Regions from separate parts of the Homo sapiens genome. Here all the other regions are linked to region 1. The links come from fine-mapping of genetic effects on gene expression. A gene starts in region 1. Each other region holds a variant in brackets. All regions are shown on one strand. Distances are from middle to middle. Region 1 holds the start of SERPINB9 (serpin family B member 9). Region 2 has its middle 3.4 kb from the start of MIR4645. Region 3 has its middle 21 kb from the start of SERPINB9. Region 4 has its middle 9.1 kb from the start of MIR4645. Region 5 holds the start of SERPINB1 (serpin family B member 1). Region 6 has its middle 34 kb from the start of SERPINB9.

What was found.
Region 2: its variant is fine-mapped to the expression of SERPINB9 in whole blood (INTERVAL, PIP above 0.99). The same link has a PIP of 0.9 or more in visceral fat.
Region 3: its variant is fine-mapped to the expression of SERPINB9 in whole blood (TOPMed, PIP 0.91).
Region 4: its variant is fine-mapped to the expression of SERPINB9 in whole blood (TOPMed, PIP above 0.99).
Region 5: its variant is fine-mapped to the expression of SERPINB9 in whole blood (TOPMed, PIP above 0.99).
Region 6: its variant is fine-mapped to the expression of SERPINB9 in whole blood (INTERVAL, PIP above 0.99).

The regions. Positions count from the first base shown.
Region 1 is chr6:2,901,385-2,905,473 of GRCh38, reverse strand. SERPINB9 (serpin family B member 9) reads left to right here and starts at 2,165. Exons shown (of 7, transcript NM_004155.6): 1 at 2,165-2,273. RefSeq lists silencers at 1,970-2,019, 2,120-2,199, 2,440-2,489 and an enhancer at 2,200-2,701.
Region 2 is chr6:2,855,471-2,859,559 of GRCh38, reverse strand. It overlaps the pseudogene SERPINB9P1. Among named protein-coding and RNA genes, the nearest start is that of MIR4645, 3.4 kb to the right of the region's middle. RefSeq lists an enhancer at 402-981. The variant T/C (reference allele first, on the strand shown) is at 2,460.
Region 3 is chr6:2,922,576-2,926,664 of GRCh38, reverse strand. No RefSeq gene overlaps it. Among named protein-coding and RNA genes, the nearest start is that of SERPINB9, 21 kb to the right of the region's middle. The variant A/G (reference allele first, on the strand shown) is at 1,559.
Region 4 is chr6:2,861,178-2,865,264 of GRCh38, reverse strand. It overlaps the pseudogene SERPINB9P1. Among named protein-coding and RNA genes, the nearest start is that of MIR4645, 9.1 kb to the right of the region's middle. RefSeq lists an enhancer at 2,231-2,560. The variant G/A (reference allele first, on the strand shown) is at 2,041.
Region 5 is chr6:2,840,475-2,844,563 of GRCh38, reverse strand. SERPINB1 (serpin family B member 1) reads left to right here and starts at 2,701. Exons shown (of 7, transcript NM_030666.4): 1 at 2,701-2,752; 2 at 3,970-4,089. The coding sequence starts at 3,978. RefSeq lists a silencer at 2,757-2,806. The variant A/G (reference allele first, on the strand shown) is at 1,968.
Region 6 is chr6:2,935,243-2,939,331 of GRCh38, reverse strand. No RefSeq gene overlaps it. Among named protein-coding and RNA genes, the nearest start is that of SERPINB9, 34 kb to the right of the region's middle. The variant C/G (reference allele first, on the strand shown) is at 1,622.

The sequences.
Region 1 (4,089 bases):
GCAATGGCACTGACAACGATGCCCCCATTTGTTGCCTTAAAATTCATGGGTATGGCCAGGCACAGTGGTTCACGCCTGTAATCCCAGCACTTTGGGAGGCTGAGGCGGGAGGATCACCTGATGTCAGGAGTTCGTGACCAGCCTGGCCAACATGGTGAAACCCCATCTCTACTAAAAATACAAAAATTAGCTGGGTATGGTGATGCATGCCTATAGTCCCAGCTACTTGGGAGGCTGAGGCAGGAGAATCGCTGGAATTGGGAGGTGGAGGTTGCAGTGAGCCAAGATCACGCCATTGTTCTCCAGCCTAGGCGATAGAGCAAGACTCCACCTCAAAAAAATAAATAAGTGGATAAATAAATAACAGCTTTTTGTTTAATCAATTGTCTCTATCATTATAAAGTTTTCTATATCATTGATTTATTCTCTAATCTTTATTATTTCTTCTTTTCTACTGATTATGTGTTCAATGTATTTATACTTTTTCTAGTTTTTGAAGGTAGAAACTGAGGTCATTGATTTGAAGCCTTTCTCCTCTCCTAATATAGGCATTTCATGCTGCAAAATTTCCCCAAAGCTGACTTAATAACATCCTACAAATTTTGATGTTTTTATTTTCATTTTTTATTAATTTCAAAATACATTCTAATTTCCCTTTTGATTTTATAATATTTTTATAAGTATTATTCAGTTATAAAAAGAAATAAAGTACTAACAAATGCTACCTGGAACCATCAAGAATGACCCTTGAAAACATTATGCTAAGTGAAAGAAGGCAGTCAGGAAAGACCACATATTGTATGATTCAATTTGCATGAAATCTTCACAGTCGGTCAATCCGCAGGGCCAGAAAAGAAATCTGGAGGTCGGAGCCTCTCCCAGAAGCCAGGGGTTGTGGGAAGGAGGAAATGGAGAATAATTGCTAATGGGTATCACAGTTCCTTTTAGGGTGATGAAAACCTTCTGGAGTTAGATAGTGGTGAGAGTTGGACAGCTTTGTCAATATACCAAGAACTATTGAATTGTATGCTTTAAAAGGATGCATATTATGGTCCGTGAATTGTCTTTTAATAAAGGTTTTATTTTTAAAAACAAGCTAGGCACCTAGGGTGTCAAATTGAAGGAGGCTCTGATTCTCAGGGCCGCGCAAATGCAGGGTTGGCACCTATGCGTGTGGCCCTCCTGAAATTTTGTGCCTTAGGCACCTGCCTTGCTTCTCCCTAATTCAGGCCCTCAGGAGAAAGCTCTAATTCTGGTCAATTTGAAACAGGAGGGCACGGCTTCTGGGCGACGCTCCGTGCTCCAGAGAGAGCCATTTGTCTGTTCCCTTCCTCTGGACGTCACCGTGCCAACATGAAATGCTTCCAATTGAGTCCAGCCTGAGATGGAAGGGGGTGGGGGGATATCTGATGACATCACGAACTGCTGCATCAACTCCCCCGAGTCCCTGCCTCTGGACCCCCTGATAGAGGACACAAGGAGTGTCCTGAGCCCGTGTGACTCAGTGTCTCTTCCCATCACTTTGCGGGAAAATGGGGCTGCTTACACCACACCGCAGCCCAAACACCTGTGGCTAGAGAAGGGCTTGGGTACTAGGAGTGAGGACGCCTGGTTCTGGGCCCAGGACTAGTACTAGTTAGTGGTGGGACCTGGAACAAATGCTTTGGTTCTAAGTGAATCCCCCATATTCATGACAAGAGGCGTGGAACACAGACCCATGGGACCTTCCCACTGGAACACGGAGCTTGGCTGTCACCCGACCTTCGCTTCCTTAAGTACAAAAGCCCAGGGTTCCAGGCTCCGTCTCCTTTCCCGCAGACGCCTTGTTTCTTCGCGCGGAGGCCCTGGACGCCGCAGGCTCCCAACCTACTTCTCTGGGCTGTCAGGTTCTGAACCCGGTCCTGAAGAGGCCCTGGCGCCGGGGGTGGGTGAGGCCGAGCGCGCGCCTTGGGAACCTGGCCGGCCTCAGGCTGGCGGGAGCATTGGCGGACATCGCCCCGGGCGGGGCGGACTGGGGGGACCCTGACCTGACCCTGCTCCCAGCTCTGACCTCGGCCACCACGCGCGGCGCCCCCGCTGGTCCCGCCAGGCTCCGCCTAAACGCAGAAAGCGTGGGAGGCGCCCGACCCTGCGGTATAAAAGCGGTGCCTGCAGAGGCCCTAGCGGGAGTCCGCGGCGAGCGCAGCAGCAGGGCCGGGTCCTGCGCCTCGGGGGTCGGCGTCCAGGCTCGGAGCGCGGCACGGAGACGGCGGCAGCGCTGGACTAGGTGGCAGGTGAGGGCGTCCCCGCGCACGGCTGGGGTAGGGGACGGGAGTGGCGAGCTTCAGGTCCACCGGCTGCCACCGAGTGATGGGACCGGAGGACAGGAGAGGTCGCTCAGCCAAGAGCCCCGGGGAGGCGGTGCCTTCTCGGTGGGGTCAGCAACGGTCTCTGGGGGGTGCCTGGGAGCGGCAGCCGGTCTCCGCCTTGGCGGCCCACAGCCACCGCGGACGCCTCCCTCCCGGATGTCTCCTCGCTGCCCTTCCCTGGCCGAAGCCCTCCCCTGCAGCCTCCTCCCCACCTGCCGGCCCTGTGTTCTCACTGCTCTTCTCTGCTCTGGGATCCGCAGGATGACGTCTGTCCTGCTTCTTCACTGTCCTTTACAGTCACCAGTCTCGGCCGGGCGCAGTGGCTCACGCCTGTAATCCCAGCACTTTGGGAGGCCAAGGCGGTCGGATCCTTGGAGATCAGGAGTTCGAGACCAGTCTGGCAAACGTGGTGAAAACCGGTCTCTACTAAAAATACAGAAATTAGCCGGGCATGGTGGCCCACGCCTGTAATAATGTCAGCTATGTGCTGAGGCAGGAAAATCACTTCAACTCGGGAGGCAGAGGTTGCAGTGAGCTGGGATTGCGCCACTGCACTCCAGCCTGGCAGACAGAGTGAGACTTCGTCTCAAAACAAAAAAAAGAAAAACACAAAAAAACCACCACCAACAACAACAAAAAAATAAAGCCACCAGTCTCGGAGTTTCAAATCTGAGCACTCTTATCCATCTTAATTCTTTCAATAATTCAGCTAAACGAATGGGGTCCTGAGAATCTGCAGAGCCAGGCTCAGCGCTCGCCTGCAGAGCCTGCGGTCTGTGGGGACCACCAGCAAGATGAGGAATCACCTTCGGGAGGAAGGGTCGTGCTGGGGAGGGTCGCGCCGGCGGGGTCAAGAGAACCTCCTCCAGGGTGGGAATCAGAGCCTCCGGGCCGCGGTGTTTGAGGGTGAGTGGAATTAATGCCGTGATGGACATGGGGCCTTCTAAGGGGGACCAACAGTGTTTGTGAAGAGTTGACTTTGGGAGGGGTTCAGGATGGCCAGAGGTGGAGGCTGTGACCTCAGTGAGTCTGGATCAAGGGAGGGGGCAGGTGGGTAAGACACCGTTTTAACAAGGTGGCTTTGAGCGGCCACCTTTGAGGGGCCTAAGGGCCCCTGGGAGATTTAGGAGGAAGGACAAGAGGATTAAGACACCGCTTTCTGAGGTGCCGTGTGGCTGTGGCGTGGGGGTGGCTGGGGGAGTGGGTTGTGTTCATTGTCCAAGGCTCTCCAGCGCTTTGCGTGGCGTTTTGGGGAGCACAGATGAGGTGTCCCGACAGTGGGGAGTGGCTCTAGGGAGACCAGAGGCTCGGGAGGGGGCCTGGGCATTAGACCAGGCACAGAATCCGAAGTGGGAAGAAATGTGGGCGTAGAGGGCAGGCCTTGGGGATGGGTGTGGGGGAGGAGGGGGAGATGGAAAGGAGTCAGGGAGGTCTCCCAGGCTCACCTGGAGGAGTCAGGGTCTCATTTCCAAGTGCACTGGGAACTGCAGCCTGGGGGTGGGGGTTCATTTGGTTTCAGGCCTGTGGCCAAGAGACCCACCCCCTCACATTCACACTTTGGTCTCCAGTGGCTTCACAGGCACCACCTCCTTGTTCTCGCCTGTTTTACTCCTCACCTTGGGCTGTTTCTTGCCTTTCCATTCTGGCGTTCTGCAGGGATCAGATCCTTCCTCTCACGCACAATCTACACTCATGGCTTTTGCTGGGAGTAATGAGTAAAGCTCCCAAATAGATGTTTCTG
Region 2 (4,089 bases), 46 kb after region 1:
GTAATTCTATTTTTAATTTTTTGCGGGACTTCCATACTGTTTCCCTGAATGCTTGTACTAATTTAAATTCCCAGCAACAGTGTGCAGGTGTTCCCTTCCTCCACATCTGGACCAGCCCTTGTTATCTTACTTGTTTTTTTTTAAATTTATTTATCATGTTATTTGATTTTTAGAACAACTCTAAGCCATGGACAAAGCGGAAGCCATTACCTTCCTTTCACAAATGAGGAATGGAGGACAAAGGTTTAGAAACCTTTGTCCACTAGACACTTGACACTAGACACTTGTCTAAGATCACACAGATAGGAGACTTAAATTTAGATGTTTGATGACGCAGAGATACAGACAACAGGAAGAGGATGGAGGTTAAACCCAAAAGCTCAAGCAAAGGGCTGCTGAGCTGAGCATCTGTGAGGCTGTACTACACTGAAGGGCCTGCATGAGCGACGGTGTGGAGGGAGAAGACCCATAAGACAGTTACCAGAGGGACCAGCCCAGACAGAGAAGGGGCAGGGGACAGAGCCATTCAGCTGGAGCCATACTGAAGAGGAGTTGGAACTTTTTCCAGGGCCATCATTTATGATCAGTGGAGTCACATGATCTCCTTGGAGGCTGGGACACTGCTTAATCCTTTCTCATCTCCCCAGAACCTAACCTGATATTTGGCACTGTAATAGAAAGTGCACAACAAATGTTTATTGTCCAAACCAGCGGGGATCTCTGGCTCCGAGGATGATCTGGCAGCAGAAGGAGGCTGGTTTGGGTGTGGGGAAGAGGTAGGGTGGGTCAAACAGAGGTGGGGCCATGAGAAAGGGGCATTCACTCAGAGAACCACTGTCAGCTGGAGAAAAACAAAATGAAACCAAACTATTTTTCCCAGGCCTTGAGGCAGAACTTTCTTTTTCTAGAAGCCAGATGAAAGAAAGAAGAGACCAGGCATGGTGGCTTATGCCTGTAATCCCAGCACTTTGGGAGGCTGGGGTGGGCAGATCACAAGGTCAAGAGATCAAGACCAGCCTGACCAATATGGTGAAACCCCATCTCTACTAACATTACAAAAATTAGCCAGGCATGGTTGCGTGTGCCTGTAATCCCAGCTACTCGGGAGGCTGAGGCAGGAGAATTGCTTGAACCCGGGAGGCAGAGGTCGCAGTGAGCCCAGATCCCGCCACTGCACTCCAGGCTGGGAAACAAAGCAAGCCTCTGGCTCAAAAAAAAAAAAAAAAAAAGTACAGGAAGCAGAGAGGGGGTGAGAGGAAGGGAGAAACAGGGTGGAAGGGGGAGGGGGAGGGAGAGGGGGAGACAGGAAGAGGAGCAAAGATAGCAATTCTTAAGGCCTGTTATCTATTAGTTACCCTTGCCTTGGCGGCAGACACAGCTGAGTCCTAACGCAGACTTTTCCATATCCCCTCTCCCGCCTCAACAGTGATCTCTCCTCCCACTTCGAGAGTTAATTCAGTGCTGCTTTAGCTTTACGCCCCCATGAAAACAGGAAAACGGTTTGCAGCTTTATCATAACCTTGCTTATGTCTGTTGTTGTATGTCTCAAATACCCTGTCCTCAGGAAGGCCCACCAACGCTGGCCGGCCTCCAAGCACCCGGGCCTCTGCTCATGTACAGCTCCTGAACTGCCCTGCCTCTGAGTTACTGTAAGTCCCCGCCCACTCGAGAGCACACGACCAGTCTCACCCCCAATTTTAAAATGGCAGCCCCCTTGCCTTTATTTATAGACAGGTGCTTTCCAATCCTTAAGTGATTTTTTAGTGAACAGGTCATAAAGTTTCCTGTCATGGCATGAGGTGGAGGGGACAGCCCTCAGAGAGGGGTGTGGGGACCGTGGCTGGCGGTCACATCACACCGGCCTCTCCCGCCTGCAGCCTTGCCCTTTGCAGATGACTCAGGTGGGGAAAGCTCAGAAGGAAAGCCACCAAGTCCGGATGCCCCACCCCACACGCAGAATCTAGCTTCTCAGGGAAAGCAAGAAGGGGATGCTTCAGGGGACTTTGCTGAGGCCAACCTTTGGCATCTTTTTTGAAAAGACATTTGTGTCCGTTTGCTCATTTTTTTCATGATCAAGGAGGGTCCTCCCAGGCTGCCCTTGGCGGACCCCTTTCCTTGTACCCCGTCCACCTTGTCCTCTGGCTTCCAGCGGGTCCACTCCTCTTTCCTGCTTCCTAAACCTCGCCCAGAGCCTGCGACCCTCTCACCCTGGCCCAAACTCCCAGACACAGATTTGCAGCAGCGCAGCCAATGATGTTTTCTTTATGTGACTTCCTGGGACACTGCTTAGTGCCTCCTCCCATGTCTTCCTTGGGCTGCAGCATCTCTCAGGGCTCACAGAGGCCCCTCTAACTCCAAGGGGACTTCTTGGTCTGTTTCACAGGCCAGGAGACGGTGTTCGGATACATCCCCGCTGTATGTTTCATCCATGGCAGTCTGGCCTTCCCATGAAGAGCCTC[T/C]GTGTGAGCAAATTGAAAATAGGGCTTCTTGCCCCAACCTTCCATGGAAATGGCTATGGTTTCAGTCTCCATAAAGGTTACTTGCTCTTTTTCTGAAAATCCAAAAGGACAGTGTTAACTCTTTGTACAAATTGCACTGGCCATTTGGTCTTAGCGCAAACTTTTTGGACCATGTTTCATTTTCGTTTTGAGGTGAAAGAAAATATCAAAGCCTCCTAGCATTTTGAAACTCCTCAAATATCAAGTGCAAAACTGCTGATGGGATCAAAGATGCCGGCTAAATTCTTGGCCAATAAGATAAGACTCTTTCCTGTCAACTGACAAGCAATACATGAATATGTGCAGGGTAGCTGATAATCTATGAAATTATCGGCTGGGTACAGTGGCTCACGCCTGTAATCTCAGCACTTTGGGAGGCCAAGGTGGGTGGATCACCTTAGGTCAGGAGTTCGAGACCAGCCTGGCCAACATGCTGAAACCCTGTCTCTACTAGAAATACAAAAATTAGCCAGGCATGGTGGCAGGCACCTGTAGTCCCAGATACTTGGGGAGGCTGAGGCAGGAGAATGGCTTGAACTCGGGAGGTGGAGCTTGCAGTGAGCCAAGATCGTGCCACTGCACTCCAGCCTGGGCAACAGGGTGAGACTCCATCTAAAAAAAAAAGAAAAAAAAGAAATTACCACCAATTACTAACTAGTAACTAATAAGTTACTTGAAATGAACTTGATCCTTGTCTTAAACCAGTGGTGGGGTACAGGAAACTTGAAGATTCTTGAGCTGCAGCCCTGTTTTGATTTGTAGTTTTTGTTGCAATATACACCTCTCTACTAGGCACAGGTGACACATGGGAGCTTGTGTCGACATGTGGGAGCCCTGTACAGGGTCCAGACCTTGAGGTGCCAGGCAGCAGAGCCTGTGGCTGGGAATGGGGGTGCGTGGGGCTTATCTTGGGCCTCACATAGGGCCTCAAAGTTAAAATGTTGAAATTATTTCCTAGTAATCTTACTATACTTAGAGTCACAGAGACAGATACACTGAAAAGACGGACAGAAATTACTTTAATGATAAAAGTTAAGCTCATGTTCCATGAAAGAAATGCCATAAGAATGTTTTCTAAATCCTATGCTTAACTTCGGAATAGCGCAATTAGATTGCATTGCATTTTTGAAAGATCACTTGTTAAATACAAAATTTTAAAACATACCACAATATTTGGCACTTCATTTTCTTTATTAAACAAGGAGACTCAGAAAATCATAGTGGCCTGGGCCCATGTGAACCTCTGTGAAAGCCTCCCACAGGGAGAGAGGACTGGGATGCCATGGTCCTAGGTGGGAATGGGGGGAGCAGTGTAGGCCTCGGTGCGGACCCAATGCTGGGGCCCTAAGGCTCTCTCCTCTTTTCTTCCAGGTGGAAAATGAGCTTATATATGAAGAAGTCAGCGAGTGGACAAAGCCAGGCGCAATGGATAGCAAAGATGTGGAAGTCTCCTCGATTCAAGTTACAAGAAAACCGCAGCATGGAGTCTGCTCTCAGCTGTTGGGGAATTACCGATGCCTTTGACTAAGTCAAGACTGACTTTTCCAGAATATCACCCAAGAGATAGAGCCGTCCCTGTCCAAGTTTGTGC
Region 3 (4,089 bases), 21 kb before region 1:
ATGTAGAAAAGGAAGGCATAAGAAACTCCATCTTGATCGGTACTAAGAAAAATTGTTTCTGCTTTGAGATGCTGTTAACCTGTAACTTTAGCCCCAACCCTGTGCTCACAGAAACATGTGCTATATTGAATCAAAATTTAATGGATTTAGGGTTCTGTGGGATGTGCCTTGTGAGCAATATGTTTGCAGGCAGTATGCTTGGTAAAAGTCATCGCCATTCTCCATTCTCGATTAACCGGGGACACAACGCACTGCAGAAAGCTGCAGGGACCACTGCCCAAGAAAGCCTGGCTTTCCCCCCACTGAGACAGCCTGAGATATGGCCTTGTTGGAAAGGAAAGACCTTACCATGCCCCAGGCCCACACCGGTAAAGGGTCTGTGCTGAGGAGGAGTAGTGAAAGAGGGAGGCCTCTTTGCAGTTGAGATAAGAGGAAGGCTTCTGTCTCCTGCTCCTCCCTGGGATTGGAATGTCTCAGTGTAAAGCCGACCATTCCCATTCGTTCGATTCTGAGATAGGAGAAAACCACCCTGTGGCTAGAGGCAAGATAAGCTGGCAACAATGCTGCTCTGTTACTCTTTGCTACACTGAGATGTTTATGTAAAGTGAAAGATAAATCTGGCCTACGTGCACATCCAGGCACAGTACCTTTCCTTGAACTTATTCATGATACAGATTCCTTTGCTCACATGTTTCCCTGCTGACCTTCTCCCCACGTGTTGCCCTGCTACACTCCGCTGGCTAAGATAGTAAAAATAATGATCAGTAAATACTGAGGGAACTCAGAGGCGGGTGCTGGTGGCCCCCTTCAAATTGTCAAATGGTTCTCATCTATAAAATGCTAATGTCTGATAGGCAGCTCAGGACTTCTTGCTTCCTAGGTTTTCACTAAAATTTAAGGTTACTGAGGATAGGAATTATAGTTAATATATAATTCTGTATATAAAATGTGCCAAAGAAGATGTGTTCTTGTGAGATAAAGAATAATTTTGTCAGATTTAGAACTTATCTAAAGGTTAATTCAAATTATGGACTTGAAAAGGTTATTTATGAAAAGCGTAGTAAGGAACCAGTAAGTAGGGAAGAGAGATGGGAAGAAAGTTATGTATGTGAAGATGTATTTTTGTTAAGGAAGGTTATAAAGAAAAATAATTTTGTGTGAGAAAGGATATTGTATGGTGATTTTTTTTCCTAAAGTAAAATGACTAATTATTAAAAAACAGAGAGAAAATTTAGGACAAAACAGAAAATCCAAGCATGTGATAGATGGTCTGTGTAAATCATATGTAATTTTTTCTGTTTCTCTGTGTCTGTCTTCATGCACATACCAAAAAAAAAAAATAGCAAGTTGAGAAAGTTTAGATAATAAAATATTCTTTAAAACCTGATAGAAAATTGAAGACATTTGGCTAATTGACATTGTTCATAGTTAAAGCTCTTAGTCTTGATAAAGGTAGAATAAGAAATATTATAAAGAAATACATTGCCAGTTTGGCAATTCTTTTTAAATGTAGTTAAGTATGAAGCCAGATTACCATGGAGCGAAATTTCACACACAC[A/G]TTTGCACTGCTTCACACTATATTTGCAATTCTGCATAGATAGTACTAGCACCAAAGTAATTACTGGTCATATACCCAAAGTGAATGTCTTAATTGCACAAAATATATCATGTTATTGATAGACTTAAATACATTGAATTGTATATCAGGAACAAAATATCTATTATGTGTTTCTTTAAGATGCTGGTTAACACTTTAGCCTCTAAGGTAAACTGAGTAGGAGAACAATTGGGGTTGGTTTCCTGTTTATTTCCTTCTGCTTCTAATTTTCATTTATTTGCTGTTTGTTCTCCTTTGGGTTTTACATATATATGCATATATAAAACCATTGATGTTTTTAAGTTTCCCGTGGAAGTCTTTTATTTTGTTCTATAAATAGTCATTTTGTTTCCTATGCATTTCCAGCAATTCATCATTTGTTTTATTTATCTAAAATTCTTAAGCCCCTTTGTCAGGCATCCAAAAATTGATAAAGGACATCAGCCATTTAAATTTTGGTTGGTTTTGCTTGATGATGGGGAGAGCTACAAGACCTTTAAGGCACCTAGGAAAAAAATAAAAGACTAATTTTTGGAAGTTCTGAGCAGAAATAGCACATTATTTATTTTGTTACTTGAAGAAGTGGGTGAGAATGAAAATGTTTAAATGGTGTTTATTTCCAAGGTAATTCAATTCAGTCAATAATTTCAGTTGGTTTCAGATCTTTCCTTTAGGTAGTGAGGAAACACGGTGATATGAGTACAACATTTTAATGTTCAGGAAAGATTGGCTGTATCCTTAATGAAATTGTATTGCTTAGGATTATTCTGAAGCTAATTTAGTTGTGTTGACCATTATTAAAATGTAGTTGTGTTGGCCATTATTTTGTTGTGTTGACATTCACTTGGATTAAGTAGTAATAAAGAATGTGAGACTTTCTAGTGATTTTTGATCTCAAGCCGTTTATCACTGATGGGCTTTCATATGTGTACATGAAAAAAATATGTACAAGTGTTGCGCTGGTTTGAAGATTTTAGTGGTGAAAGTTACTTAATTCGTTCTCAGTACTGTATCTAGGAACTAATCTTGGAAATATGGGATGATGTTCTTTAAACATAGCTGAAAAGAAATTACTGTGTGCTTGTTCTTACCTCGTCTTTGCTCTGTTGTATACTATTTAAGTGAAAGGAGCTTATTTATCCTCATTGAATTTCTAAAACCGATATTTGCATTTACCATTTTTTAATGATGGAGAGAAAAGCTAGTTGTTTTGTTTTGATATGTTTGGTACAGGCCCCATCACTTTTGGATGCTTTGGGTCACAGTTCTGTCACCAGAACGCTAGCAACTAGATACTCGCAACGAGTAACCTAAATACTTTAATACAGTGGTTTGGAGTGTGCAGGCAGCAACTACTGAATGCCAAATCACAATATTTTAACTTGTGACATGTTAGAATGATAGAACTTTCCATAGTCTAAATAATATCCCTTTAACTAATCCTCCTGCTGTTAAGTTACAGGTCTTTGACTCCTGGGTCTGAAAAAGACACCAACCCCTGCTAAATTTTGAGCACTGATACCTGTCAAAGGCTCATCTTCAGACCCTCAGATCTGGGAGAAGGTGACAATCAAAATGAACTGCTTTTGTGAGACACAGGGCCAGAAATTAAAACTATTCAACCCTCTAGGCCCAGGGACTATTGCAGAAGAGGTGGGCCTATGGGATTGTAAGGGCCAATTTTGAGGGATAACATTAGTTCTGTAAATTAAACATTAATATCAAAAGTGCACTGGTGCAAGGCTAGCGTCTAGGCCCATATGTCTGAATAACAGGGTTTCTTGAAGCATTGATCTGTTCTTTAACAGAAAATCATAAACGGTTATAAAAAGTATATGGTAATCTTACCTTATGATTAAAATTAGATTTGTTTGTAAGGTTTTATCAAAATTAGCTTTAACATTAATAATACACCATACAAAGGTAAAATTCTGATTTTCTCTTTTGAACAAAATATTTGTGTAATATTAGTAAGAGATAAAAGATTTTTGTATACCTTTTTTGTAAACTAAAGCGAAAAAATGGAGGGGGAGAGACAGATTTCGTTGGCCTCATGCTGTGTTTATTAGGTTTTATTGTTTGGGAAGCTGAATCTCCTCTCTATCAAAAGGTAAATGTTTTTGTTTTATCATTTTGGCTAAATAAATGACTATTTTATAGTGACCTGTGGTTCTATTTTGTGATAATCAAGTATCTTAACACTGATATTTGGCAAACTTTCTAAGAGCAAAATTTCAAGTTCTAAATTCAGTCTTTTTGACCTCAAACTAACTTTTTTGAATATTAAATTCTCTGAAGCCCAAGAGAGACAATTTAGGCTTATTTGTTATGTTAGAATTATTCAGAAAGCACTGTCAAATCTGAGGTGGTGTTTAGCTTCCTTTGGGTTATATTTATATAGATATGTCGTTAATATTTGTTCCAGGATTGTATAAGATTCCTCAAATTCAGATATGTCTTAGTATATATTGTCAGTAGTAATTATGATTATT
Region 4 (4,087 bases), 40 kb after region 1:
AAGATTCCTTTCTTCTTCAGAGACAAATGCTCAGTGAGTTCTATCCTACGTGTTGCAAGGTGAAGGGAGGGGGGTCACAAAATCACGACAGAATCCCATCTTCAAGGAGCTTAAAATCTGGTCATGGAATACAATGGACAAATGGGCCGATTATTTTACGACTGACCCTCCCCACAACAGGCTGCCCCGTCTCCATTTGGTTATGCCTGGTCCGTTGCTGCTGTTGCCCTCTCTTCTCAACACTCTGGGATTGTTGGTAGCTGACTCTCTCATCAGGACAATTTTTAGGGTTTTCATTTCTCAGAAAAGTTGTTGACTATGGAGAAACAAGAAAGATTGTGGCAATGAATACAATTCTCATTCCTATGAAGGCATAAGAAGGATGGGTCTTTCCCCCAAAACTTTAAAGAATCTTGCCAGAAATTGTATCAGGCCAAGCCAGAGGGGCCGTCCTTTGCAGAGGCTGCAGCGGTGTCCCTGCAACACACACAATTGCTTAGGTGGTGAAAGCGACAGAGGGTGGGGTCTTTAATTTTTATGTTTTCTGTTGTTAACAGCATTGTACTTTATAAAGGACAGAAATTTATTTCCACAACTATTTCTACTACATATAAATTGGTATGTGGTAGATAAGAAAATTATTAGGTAAGGAAAAGCAATCAATTTTTAATTATTCTGGGAGACAAAAAACAAAAAACTTTAGAACAATAGTCATCAGCAAATGATTTCTTTTCTTTTTTTTTTTTTTTTTTTTTTTTGAGACAGAGTGGGCTCACTGCAACCTCCGGCTTCTGGGATCAAGCAATTCTCCTGCCTCAGCCTCCCGAGTAACTGGGATTACAGTCATGCACCACCACGCCCAGTTAATTTTTTTGTGTATTTTTAGTAGAGACGGGGTTTCACCATGTTGGCCAGGCTGGTCTCAAACTCCTGTCCTCAAGTGATTCACCCGCCTCGGCCTCCCAAAGTGTTGGGATTACAGGTGTGAGCCACTGCACCCAGCCCAAACATTTCTTTAGTTATCTCTTACTAAATGATGGAGGAGGCATATGCCTTACATAGCTCAGGGCATGGCGGCCAAAGAATCCACTGGTATTTGGAGCAGTTTCTTCCAGTTCAGCTTAGTTTAACAAACATGTAGGAATGTTGACTTTGGCCCAGGCCCTGGGGATATAAAGATGAAAAGGTAATTCTGCCCTGTAAACTCTTTGGGCAACTGGGAGTGATCCTGTATTCAGTGTGTCAAGTCCACCTCCCCTTGGGGAGCCTTAAGAAGCCTCAGCCTGGGGGGATCATGTATGGCCTTCCTCCTAGGAGATGTGTTTGGATGATTAAATCCACGAGTGTATCTCAGTCCTTGGTGCAATGCCTGGGGCCGGATAGGTCCAGCGAGGTTGGATGTCGGCATGTAATCCCAGATACCCCACCTTCCACAGCTGTGCATCAGTGTTTCAAAGGAAAGTGATCTACACAGTTTTATTAAATAAACAACAGCAGCAACTTGTGTGTGGGGTAGGGAGTCTTAAAATCAGCAAGGTAAGGATAGAACGATGTCTCCATGTCTATCTGTGCAGAAACTGTCTTGAAACACTAGGACACTGTCATGGGCTGGATTGGGTTGTTCTTCACTCCCCTCAATTCATATGTTAAATTCCTAACCTCCAGTATCTTGGAATGTGACTGTATTTGGAGACAGGGTTTTTACAGGGGTAATTAAGGCAAAATGAGGTCATTAGGTCACCCAATATGACTGGCGTCCTTATAAAAGGGTTAATTTGGACACGGACACATACAGAGGGAAAACACTAAAGAGCTATAGAGAGAGGAGGGCCATCTGCAAGTTAAGGAGGGAGGCCTGGAACATATTCTCCCTCTGAGTCCCAAGAAGGAACCCACCTTACTGACACCTTGATCTTAGACTTTCAGCCCTCAGAAATGAGACAATAAATACCTTTCTGTTGTTTAAGCTGCCCAGCCTAAAGTACTTTGTTATGTATGGCAGCCCTAGACAGTTAATACAAATATTAATATCAACAATTC[G/A]TCACAATGATTCCTTTTGGGTTTTTAAATGCAAATGAGTGCCTAAACACCAGAGATGATTTTCTCTTTAGCTGAATCATGTGAGTATTCTGAGTCAAGTTTATATTTTTAATAAGTTAAAACATTTTGCCTTCCCCTTTCCGTCATCTGGTTGTGGTCATCTGATTTGAATAACATCTGCTTTCTTTTAGAATGAGAACAAAGCCGTTACACTCATATATAAAATACCTTCTCACCACCTGTTTTGGGGGATTAATGGTAGTTTAAAAATTAAGTGCAACTCAAGTTGTGGCCAAGCAAGGCCGACTGACTTCCTGAGATGTTAGGATCCTGTTCTTGGGGCCACCTCATTTGTTTGCATGGCTCCAGGGGACACCTTTCACATTGGGTATGACTGGAGCATCATCCTTGAAGGTGGGTGACTCTGCAGCCCTGCCTACCCTCTGGTGACATCTGAAGTGTTGTTGACATCAGCTTTAATTCAGAGGAACTCTACACAAATGTCTTGGGTACTCCTGTGTGCTGAATACTGTGGGAAGACCATTCTTCAAGGACTTTATGATCCACTCCAAAGGTGGAAAGGCAAGCCCACCTTCAATATGACATAGAACATGGTAACAAAATAGATGTGTAAAGCACTTTTGCTACTTAGAAACACTTTAGATCCATTTGACTATTTGATTTTTTCTAGCTTTCTTGAGGTATAGTTGACAAACAAAAATTGTATACATTTGCAATGTACAATGTGATGTTTTGATATATGTCTTAGTCCATTTTGTGCTGCTATAACAGAATACCACAGACTAGGTAATTTATAAAGAACAGAAATTTATTTCCTCACAGTTCTGGAGGCAGGGAATCCAAGATTGAGGGTCTGGCATCTGGTGAAGGCCTTCTTGCTGCCTCGTCCCATGGTGGAAGGTGGAAGGCAAGAGAGGATGAGAGACAAAAGAAGGCCCAAATTGTCCTTTTATAAGGAATCCACTCCCCAGATAAATGCATTAATCCATTCATATGGGCAGAGCCCTCATGATCTGATCACCTCTTAAAGGTCTCACCTCTTAATACTGTTACAGTGGTAATTAAATTTCAACATGAGTTTGGGAGGGAACAAACATTTAAACCATAAATACAGATACATTGTGAAATGATCACCATAGTCAAGCAAATTAACATATCCTCCACATTTACTTATCATTTGTGTATGTGATGAGAACATTCAGGATCTACTCTTAGCACATCTCAAGCATACATTCTCATGAACTTTCATAGCCATGCTGTACCTTAGATTTCCAAAATGTGTTAACTTTGAGTACCTTAAACTTTTTGAGGTAGTCTGTCACGCAGGCTGAAATGCAGTGGTGTGATCTCAGCTCACTGCTACCTCCCCCACCTGTGTTCAACTTATCTTTCCACTTCAGCCACTCAAAGTACTGAGATTACAGGTGTGAGCCAGAATGCTCAACCCATAATTCAAACTTTATACCCTTTTGTGACCGGGAATTGGTGGGGTTTTGGTCTCACTGACTTCAAGAACAAAACCGCAGACCCTCATGATGTGTTATAGCACTTAAGGTGGCACATCTGGAGTCTGTCCTTTATTGATGTTCAGATGTATTTGGAGTTTTTTTTTTCTGGTGGGTTCACGGTCTTGCTGGCTCAGGAGGCAAGCTGCAGACCTTCGTAGTGAATGTTACAGTTCTTAAGGCAACGCATCTGGAGTTGTTAATTCACTCCTGGTGGCCTCATGGTTTCACTGTGCTTAGGAGTGAAGTTGCAGATCTTCACCGTGACTGTTACAGCTCACAAAAGCAGTGTAGACCCAAAACGAGCAACAGTAAGATTTATTGCAAAGCGAGAGAAAAGAGGAAGGGAGGGGGAGGAAGGGAGAGGAAAGAGAGAAGAAGAGAAGGAGAAGGGGGAAGAAAAGAAAAGAAAAGAAAAGAGAAAGAAGAAGAAGAAGAAGAAGAAGAAAAAGCTGCCACAGTCTGGAAGGAGATCTGAGCAGGTTGTCAATGCTGGCTCGGGCAGCCTGCTTTCATTCTCT
Region 5 (4,089 bases), 61 kb after region 1:
ATGTGATAGTATTAAGAGGTAGAGCCTTAAGAAGTGCTTAAGTCATGAGGGCAGAACCGTCATGGGTGGGATTTGGGCCCTTGAGGGAGTGCGTTCATCCCTTTCCATCCCTCCCACCGCCACGTGAAGATACAGTATATTTCCCCCTTGGATGCAGCAACAAGGTGCCATTTTGGAAGCAGAGAGCAGCCCACACCAGGCACCAAATATGTGGATGCCTTATTCTTGGACTTCCCAGCCTCCAGAACTGTGAGCAATACATTTCTGTTTTTAATAAATTGCCCAATCACAGGTATTTATAGCAGCACAAATGGACTATGACAGAAATTGATACTGAGAATGGGATGTTGCTATAACTAATACCTAAATATGTGGAAACAGCTTTGAAACTGAGTAATGGGTAGAGGCTGGAAGAATTTGGAGATGCATGCTGGAAAAAGCCTGTATAGACATAAACAGAGCTTTAAGGGAAATTAAGGGTGAGGGCTCAGAAGACAAGGAGAGCTGTAGGGAGAGCCTAAATCATCTTAGAGATTAATTAAGTGGTCTGGTCTTGATCAGAATGCGGTTAGAAGTATAGATGGTAAAGACACTTTTGATGAGATCTTAAAAGGAAACTGGAGGAAAGGTCATCCTTGTTACACAGTGGCAATGAACTTGGCTGAATTGTGTCTATGTCCTAGTGTTTTCTGAATGGCAGAACTTAAAGGCAATAAACTAGGATATTTGATGGAAGAAATCTCTGAGCAAAGCGTTGAGAGTGCAGCATGGCTTCTCTTGACTGCTTGTAGTAAAATGTGAGCAGAGAGAATGAATTAAAAACGAAGTTTATAATCAAGAGGGAAGCAGAGCTTAAAGTTTTGGAAAATTCTCAGCCTGGCCATGTAAAGAATGAAAAGGCATGTTTGGGAGGGAACACCAAGAGTGCTGCCAGGTTCACATTTGATAATGAGATGAGTATGTGTAGAAGGAAGCCAGATGCTATTTATCAAGACAATGGAAGAATGAACCCAAAGGCATTTCTGAGGTTACTGGTTCTGGATTCTCATCCCTGTCCCAGAGTGCCAGGACCCTGAGGGCAGAATAGTTTTAAGGGAGGACTCAGGACACCATGGAACCTTGGGGCTTGCTGCCTAGGGCTGCCTCAAGTCTCTGCCCCCCCACCCCCCACATTCTGGTGCAGCACTCTTTGGCCACCATCCCACGTGTGGCTTATGCAGGCCCTTGTCAGGCCACCCTTCCTGTAAGCCTTGGCAGAGTCCACGTGATGCTAACTCTGCAGGTGCACAGAGTGCATGAACTGTGGAGACACAGCCACCTCCACCTAGATTTTGAAGGATGTGTTGGGGACCCTGGGGGCCCAGTCTGAGAATTGTCACTGAGGTGAGGCTGCTGCAGAAAACCCTCACTAGGGCAATGTTTAGTGGAGCAGTGGGATTGGGGCCACTGCAGAGAGCCCCAAATAGAGTAATATCTAGTGGAGCTGTGGGAACAGGGCTGTCCCTGAGAACCCAGAACTGTCCAGCCACCAGCATGCAAGTCTATCCTGGGAGAGCCTAGACCTCAACCTGTGAGAGCTGCTGCATGGGTTGCACCTGGCAAATCCATGGGAGTGGATCCCCTGGACACTAGGGGACCCAGTCTCCACCCCCCTGTGCTCGGAATGGGGGACACAGCATCAAAGAAGATTATTCTGAAGCCCCAAGATTTAATGCTGTTTGCCTTGTTGGGTTTGGACTTACTTGGGACCAGATACTCCTTTCTTCTTGCCTGCTTCTCCCTTTGGGAATGGGAATGTACGTCCTATGCCTGTCTCATCACTGTATTTTGAAGGCCTGTAACCTATTTGATTTCACGGGCTCATAGCTGGAGGGGAATTTCACTTAGGATGAATTGTACTTTGAATCTTATGCCTTTCTAATTTAGAAGATATTTAGGTGAGACTTTGGACTTACATTTTAAAGTTG[A/G]TACTGGAACTTTGGAGGCCACTGGGATACAATGCATGCATTTTGCATGTGAGAGGGGTATGAATTTGGAGGGCAGGGGCAGAATGCTATGCTTTGAATGTCTGTGTTCCCTGCAAAATTCATGCTGAAACAATCCTCAATGCAATACTAACAGGTGGTGCCTTTAGGAGGTGACTGGATTATGAGGGCACCTTCCTCATGAATGGGATTGGCCCCTTATACGAGAGACTTCACATGAGATTTGGCCCCTTTTGCCCTTCCACTTTCCACCATTGAGGACGCAGCAGCAAGCTGTCATCTTGGAAACAGAGAGCAGGTGTTTGGAACTGGTTCTGTTTCATCTGATTCTGGGGGCCCCTCTTTTTCCCTGTGCAAGATCCCCAAATTTGCTTCCTTCTCTCAAAGAAAGCTCCCAATATAGATGGGACTCAAAGGGAGTCATTTGCCCTCTAAGAGGTGTCACAATATGTCGTCTCAGTCATTCACACCTTAGTAAGAAAAAGCTTTTCAGGTCCTTGCCAGAGATTCGGGGAAAGGCTTTGAACTGAGAAAGAAGCCGCGCCCCTGAGGAGGGCGCTGCCCGGAAGCCACGCTCACTTCTGCTTGCACTTAGGCGACCTCGGGAGCTCGGACTCCTACGCAGTCACCGGGAAGGGCCGCCGCCCCGCCCGCGGCTGCTGGCCCGGGTGACGCTTCCGCCTGCTATAAGAGCAGCGGCCCTCGGTGCCTCCTTCCTGACCTCGCACCCAGCTCGGAGCCCGGAGCGTGCCTCGGCGGCCTGTCGGGTAAGGCCGGGCCTCGGAGCGGTGGCGCGGGGGCGGGCGCGGGGAGAGGCCAGGCTCCCTCGCTCAGCTTCCAGCCCGGCACCCCCCACCCCCCAGGCTCAGGCCCCTCAGACCCGCAGCTCCCTGCGCTCGCCCTCCCCGCCAGCTTCGCGCCCCCATCCCTTCCGGGCGCCCCGACGGAGACAGACGACCTCTGATCCCCCGCCCCCGCCTGGGTACAGGCCGGGCCAGCCCGCGAGGGAGGGAGGGAGGGAGGACGACAGATGCAGGCGGAAGGCAAGACTGAAACCTGAGATCAGAATGTTGTCCCTTCTCCCTGAATTCCCTTCCTCCCAGAGCTGTTTGTGACGGTTTCCAGGCAGCCCAGGGCCAGGCCGCGGCTCCTATCTGCAGCTGCAGGGAGAGAGAGGAGGAACCCCGTGCGATTCTAGAGACGATTTCACAACAAGGAGAAATCAGCTTTGTGCTTACATGCCGAGCAGCCAGCACGGTTCTTCTTTGCCTGTCCTCGGGGGAAATCAGGGCTCTGAGAGTGGAGATCGAGATGGGCTAGTGGGTGGCGGATGGGACGCTGCACGGCCAGACCCTGGACTGTGGTGGGTTTCCAAACTGGCACATCCTACACCGGCTCTGAGACTGTGGGCACTGGACCTCATACCTTTTGAACCTCAAAAATAAGGAAGAATTATATTATTATAATAATTACAGTGATACCTTTGCTGGAGTTTTAATGCATAGTAGGTAGCTGAGTCTCTGATAGAAGGCTCTTAGTTCAGGTGAAGGTAGGCAATGGATTCATTGCCCAATGAATCAGAGACTTGAATCAAAGGCTCAGAAGCACGTGCGCTCCCACACATAGGTTGGGAAGACCCAGGGCTGGGTGGGCCCTCCCACCCCACTAAAGCTGGGGTAGCTGGGGCCTGCCTTACCCCCGCCCCACCCCCAGACTCACCTGTCTGCAAGGTCAGAGCCCTTTAGGGCACCCTGGGTGCCCTAAAATCCCCTATAACTGCTGAGTCCTTGGCCAGAATGGTCCCACATTTGTGGGCCTGGGAAAGTGTTCTTGCCCTGCTGGAATAAAAAAGCGGGGAGAAAGTACAAGATCCAGGATGCCTCAGGGCGGTTGGCAGAAATTGAGGAAGCTTCTGGAGAAATAGTGCTGCCTAATCTGCTGGCGTGGGCAGTGGGCACCATGAGGACCCTGTTCTGTGTTGCAGTTTTCACCATGGAGCAGCTGAGCTCAGCAAACACCCGCTTCGCCTTGGACCTGTTCCTGGCGTTGAGTGAGAACAATCCGGCTGGAAACATCTTCATCTCTCCCTTCAGCATTTCATCTG
Region 6 (4,089 bases), 34 kb before region 1:
GACTTCAAAAATCAAGTGCTGCTTCCGCTTTGATTTTTTTTTTTTTTTGGACGGAGTCTCGCTCTATTGCCCAGGCTGGAGTGCAGTGGTACAATCTCAGCTGACTGCAACCTTTGTCTCCAGGGTTCAAGCGATTCTCCTGCCTCAGCCTCCCGAGTAGCTGGGACTACAGGTGCTTGCCACCACGCCTGGCTGATTTTTTGTATTTTTAGTAGAGACAGGGTTTCACCATGTAAACCAGGATGGTCTTGATCTCCTGACTTCATGATCCACCTGCCTCAGCCTCCCAAAGTGCTGGAACTACAGGCGTGAGCCACCACCCCAGGCCTGCTTACAGTTTTTATACCCCTTACTCTTTTCCAGGCTGTCTCCACTCTTTGTTCTTCACCTCCCGGGCTGGCCCTCAAGTATTGCATGCCCAGTAGCCCTCCCAGTAGGCGCTGGATGGTTACTGAAGTTGTGCGCATGCCCATTAGATGCAATTCTCCCTTACTGGTCGAGCGCCCCTAGAGGAAAGTCATACACCGGGTAAATTTCACACCTTTCTATTACTGCACATGCTCAAAACCTTGTCTGGGACTGCCTTGCTAACTCCAGGTGTCTTCTGTCTGTTGCAAGACTCCTGTTATTCCCAGCGCCAGCCATGGCCACTTATTACCCTAGAGGGATAGTTTTATGCCCTTCAATCCCGGTCCCAATGAGAACCAGACAGCTCTGGGGTCCCTTCCTTGTCTTGCTCATTATTTCAGAGGGACAGATTTATAATTGTGACTGTGGCTTGACAAATGTCCAACATTCTTGGGGGCCCGTGCATGCCCTGCTCACGTCTAACCGCCTACTCTGACATTCTCATCACAAAAAAAATAGATGAGGTAATGCGTATGGGAATTAGCTTGTTTTAGCCATTCCACTGATATGGAAGGGTGTGCTCTCTTTAAATAACATGGCGGGGGGGGGAAGGGCGTGGTCCCTGGCTAGGGCTCCAACCCTGGGCCTGTGCCCACGGACCTAGTTGAGGACAGGCATTTTTGTTTTCCTGCCCCAATGTTGCACTTCTCAAGACCACCCTGGCCTGCCACGCCCCTACCCTGTGCCTGTAAAACCCTGAGACGCTAGCAGGCAGACACACAGGTGGCTGCATATCGAGAGGAGTACATCAGTGGAGGAACACACGAGCGGCTGGAAGTTGAGAGGAATGGGATGCACCAGCAGGCACCGGCATGCAGGCAGGCCATCCACCGGCAGAACAACGCAGTTTGACGGGGGCAGTTGAAGGAGAGCCCAGGTTGCCAGACTTACCTTGCACTCATTCTCCAAGCCCACATGTGATCCGATTCTTCTGGTACACCAAGGCAGGAACCCCAGGATACAGAAAGCCCTCTGTCCTTGCGATAAGGTAGGGGTCTGATTGAACTGGTTAACACAAGCCACCTATGGATAGCTAAACTAAAAAAGCACTCTAACACATGCCCAGTGGAGCTTCAGGAGTTGTAAACATTCAGCCCTAGACACTGCAAAAGGGTTGGAGCCCCACAGCCTACCTGTCTGTATTCTCTCCTAAAAGTTGGAGCAGCAGGGCACTAAAGTGAGCCATCAGCCCCATCACACATCCCGAGAGGAA[C/G]AAGGGAACTTGCCCAGTTTCACTACCATGTAAGCATGTATCAAAACATAACATTGCAAAAGTCTACACAACTATTACTTGTCCATTTTTTAAAAATTCACTGCAAGTGATTTTTATTAGAGGACCTAAGACTGTCAAATCGTTCTTTAAAAATGTTTGGAAAAGATCAAATTGAATTTTTAAAATTCACAATTTAAACTTTAAATATACGTTATTCTCAAAGTACAGTTATTTGCTATGCAGTGAATTGTGCCCAGCCCCCTCCACAAATTCATACGTTGAAACCTTAACACGTAATTCATGATTTTAAACGAGAAATTTTTACAGTTAAGGTTGCTAAAAACAACCATCACCAAAAACACTGTGCTGGTGGGTTCATTGGTCTTACTGACTTCGGGAATGAAGCCACAGACCCGTGTGGTGTTACAAGTTCTTTAAAGCGGTATGTCCTCCCTTTACTTCTTTCATGGTGGGCTTAGCGATCTCATCGGCTCAAGAGTAAAGCTCTAAAACATTCAGTGAGTGTCATAAACTACATAACGCCATACGCTCCTGATAGTTGTTTAACTCTACAAATGGGTTGGTTCTATTTTCATACCTTCAAAAACAAAACCACAGAGCTTTACAAAGAATGTTACAGCTCATACAGGAAACAAAACCGAAAAACAGCACATTTACTGAAAAAAAGAGAAAAAAAAAAAAAAAAGCAAGAAGAATAACCATTTTCACTACATTGAAGCAGATCTCAGCAAACATACCACGGCTAACTCCGACAGCCTGCTTTTATTCCCTTATCTGGCCCCACCCACATCTTGCTGATTGGTCCATTTTACAGAAAGCTGACTGGTCTGTTTTACAGAGAGCTGATTGGTCCGTTTTGCCAGGGTGCTGATTGGTGCGTTTACAATCCCTGAGCTAGACACAAAAGTTTTCCAAGTACCCACTAGATTAGCTAGACACAGAGCACTGATTGGTGCATTTACAAATCTTGAGCTAGACACAGGGTACTGATCGGTGCATTTCCAAACCTTGAGCTAGATACAGAGTGCCGATTGGTGTATTCACAATCCCTTAGCTAGACATGAAGGTTCTCCAAGTCCCCACCAGATCAGCTAGACACAGAGTGCTGATTGGTGCATTTACAAACCTCGAGTTAGATTAAGAGTGCTGATTGGTGTATTCACAATCCCTTAGCTAGACATAAAGATTCTCCAAGTCCCCCCAGATTAACTAGAATACAGAGTGCCGATTGGTGTATTTACAATCCCTTAGCTAGACAGAAAGATTCTCCAAGTCTCCACCAGATCAGCTAGACACAGAGTGCTGATTGGTGCATTTACAAAACTTGAGCTAGATACAGAGTGCCGATTGGTGTATTCACAATCCCTTAGCTAGACATAAAGATTTTCCAAGTCCCTAATAGACTCAGCAGCCCAGCTGGCTTCACCTAGTGGATCTCGCACTGGGGCCGTGGGTGGAGCTACCTGCCCATCCCATGCCGTGCGCCCGCACTTCTCAGTCCTTGGGCGGTTGATGGGACCGGGTGCCCTGGAGCAGGGGGCGGTGCTCGTTGGGGAGGCTCAGGCTGCGCGGGAGCCCACGGCGGCGGCGGTAACGCGGGGGAGACTTAGGCATGGTGGGCTGCAGGTCCCAAGCCCTACCCCGCAAGAAGGTAGCTAAGGCCCGGTGAGAAATCGAGCACAGCGCCGGTGGGCCAGCAGTGCTGGGGAACCCAGCACACCCTCCGCAGCTGTTGGCCTGGGTGCTAAGCCCCTCACTACCTGGGGCAGGTAGGGCCGGCCGGCGGCTCCGAGTGCGGGCCCGCCAACCCCACGCCCACCCGGAACTCTAGCTGGCCCGCAAGCGCTGTGCGCAGCCCCGGTTCCCACCCGTGCCTCTCCCTCCACACCTCCCCGCAAGCCGAGGGAGCTGGCTCCGGCCTCAGCCAGCCCAGAGAAGGGCTCCTCAAGCGTAGCCAGAATGGGCGCCGAGGCCAAGGAGGCAGGGAGAGCAAGCGAGGGCTGCCAGCATGCTGTCACCTCTCACTGGCATCCTGATCTTCGACTTTGGGGCCTCCAGAACTGTGAGCAAATACATTTCTGTTGTTTGAGCTGCCTGGTCTATGGTATTTTGTATGGGAGCCTAAGCTCACTAAGACATTATTCTTGGTGCACATTCATACACTGTAATTCATTTCTTAACTGAATCTACCTCTTATCAAACATCACTGGTATTTTTCCTCAATAAGGTATTTTTCAATAGGATCTTATTAAGAAAATTTTTATAAATTGCACTTTATTGTCAATAAATGTAAAATTACTATCATGGTCAATTGACTCTTGTCTGTTGACCATAGGTCCTGTGTGACCTATGCAGCATGCAGGGCTCCACATTCACAGGGATACACACTTGGATGGATGTTTTACTGTCATCAGTTTGAAATTATTTGTAGTTTTCGAACAGAGGAT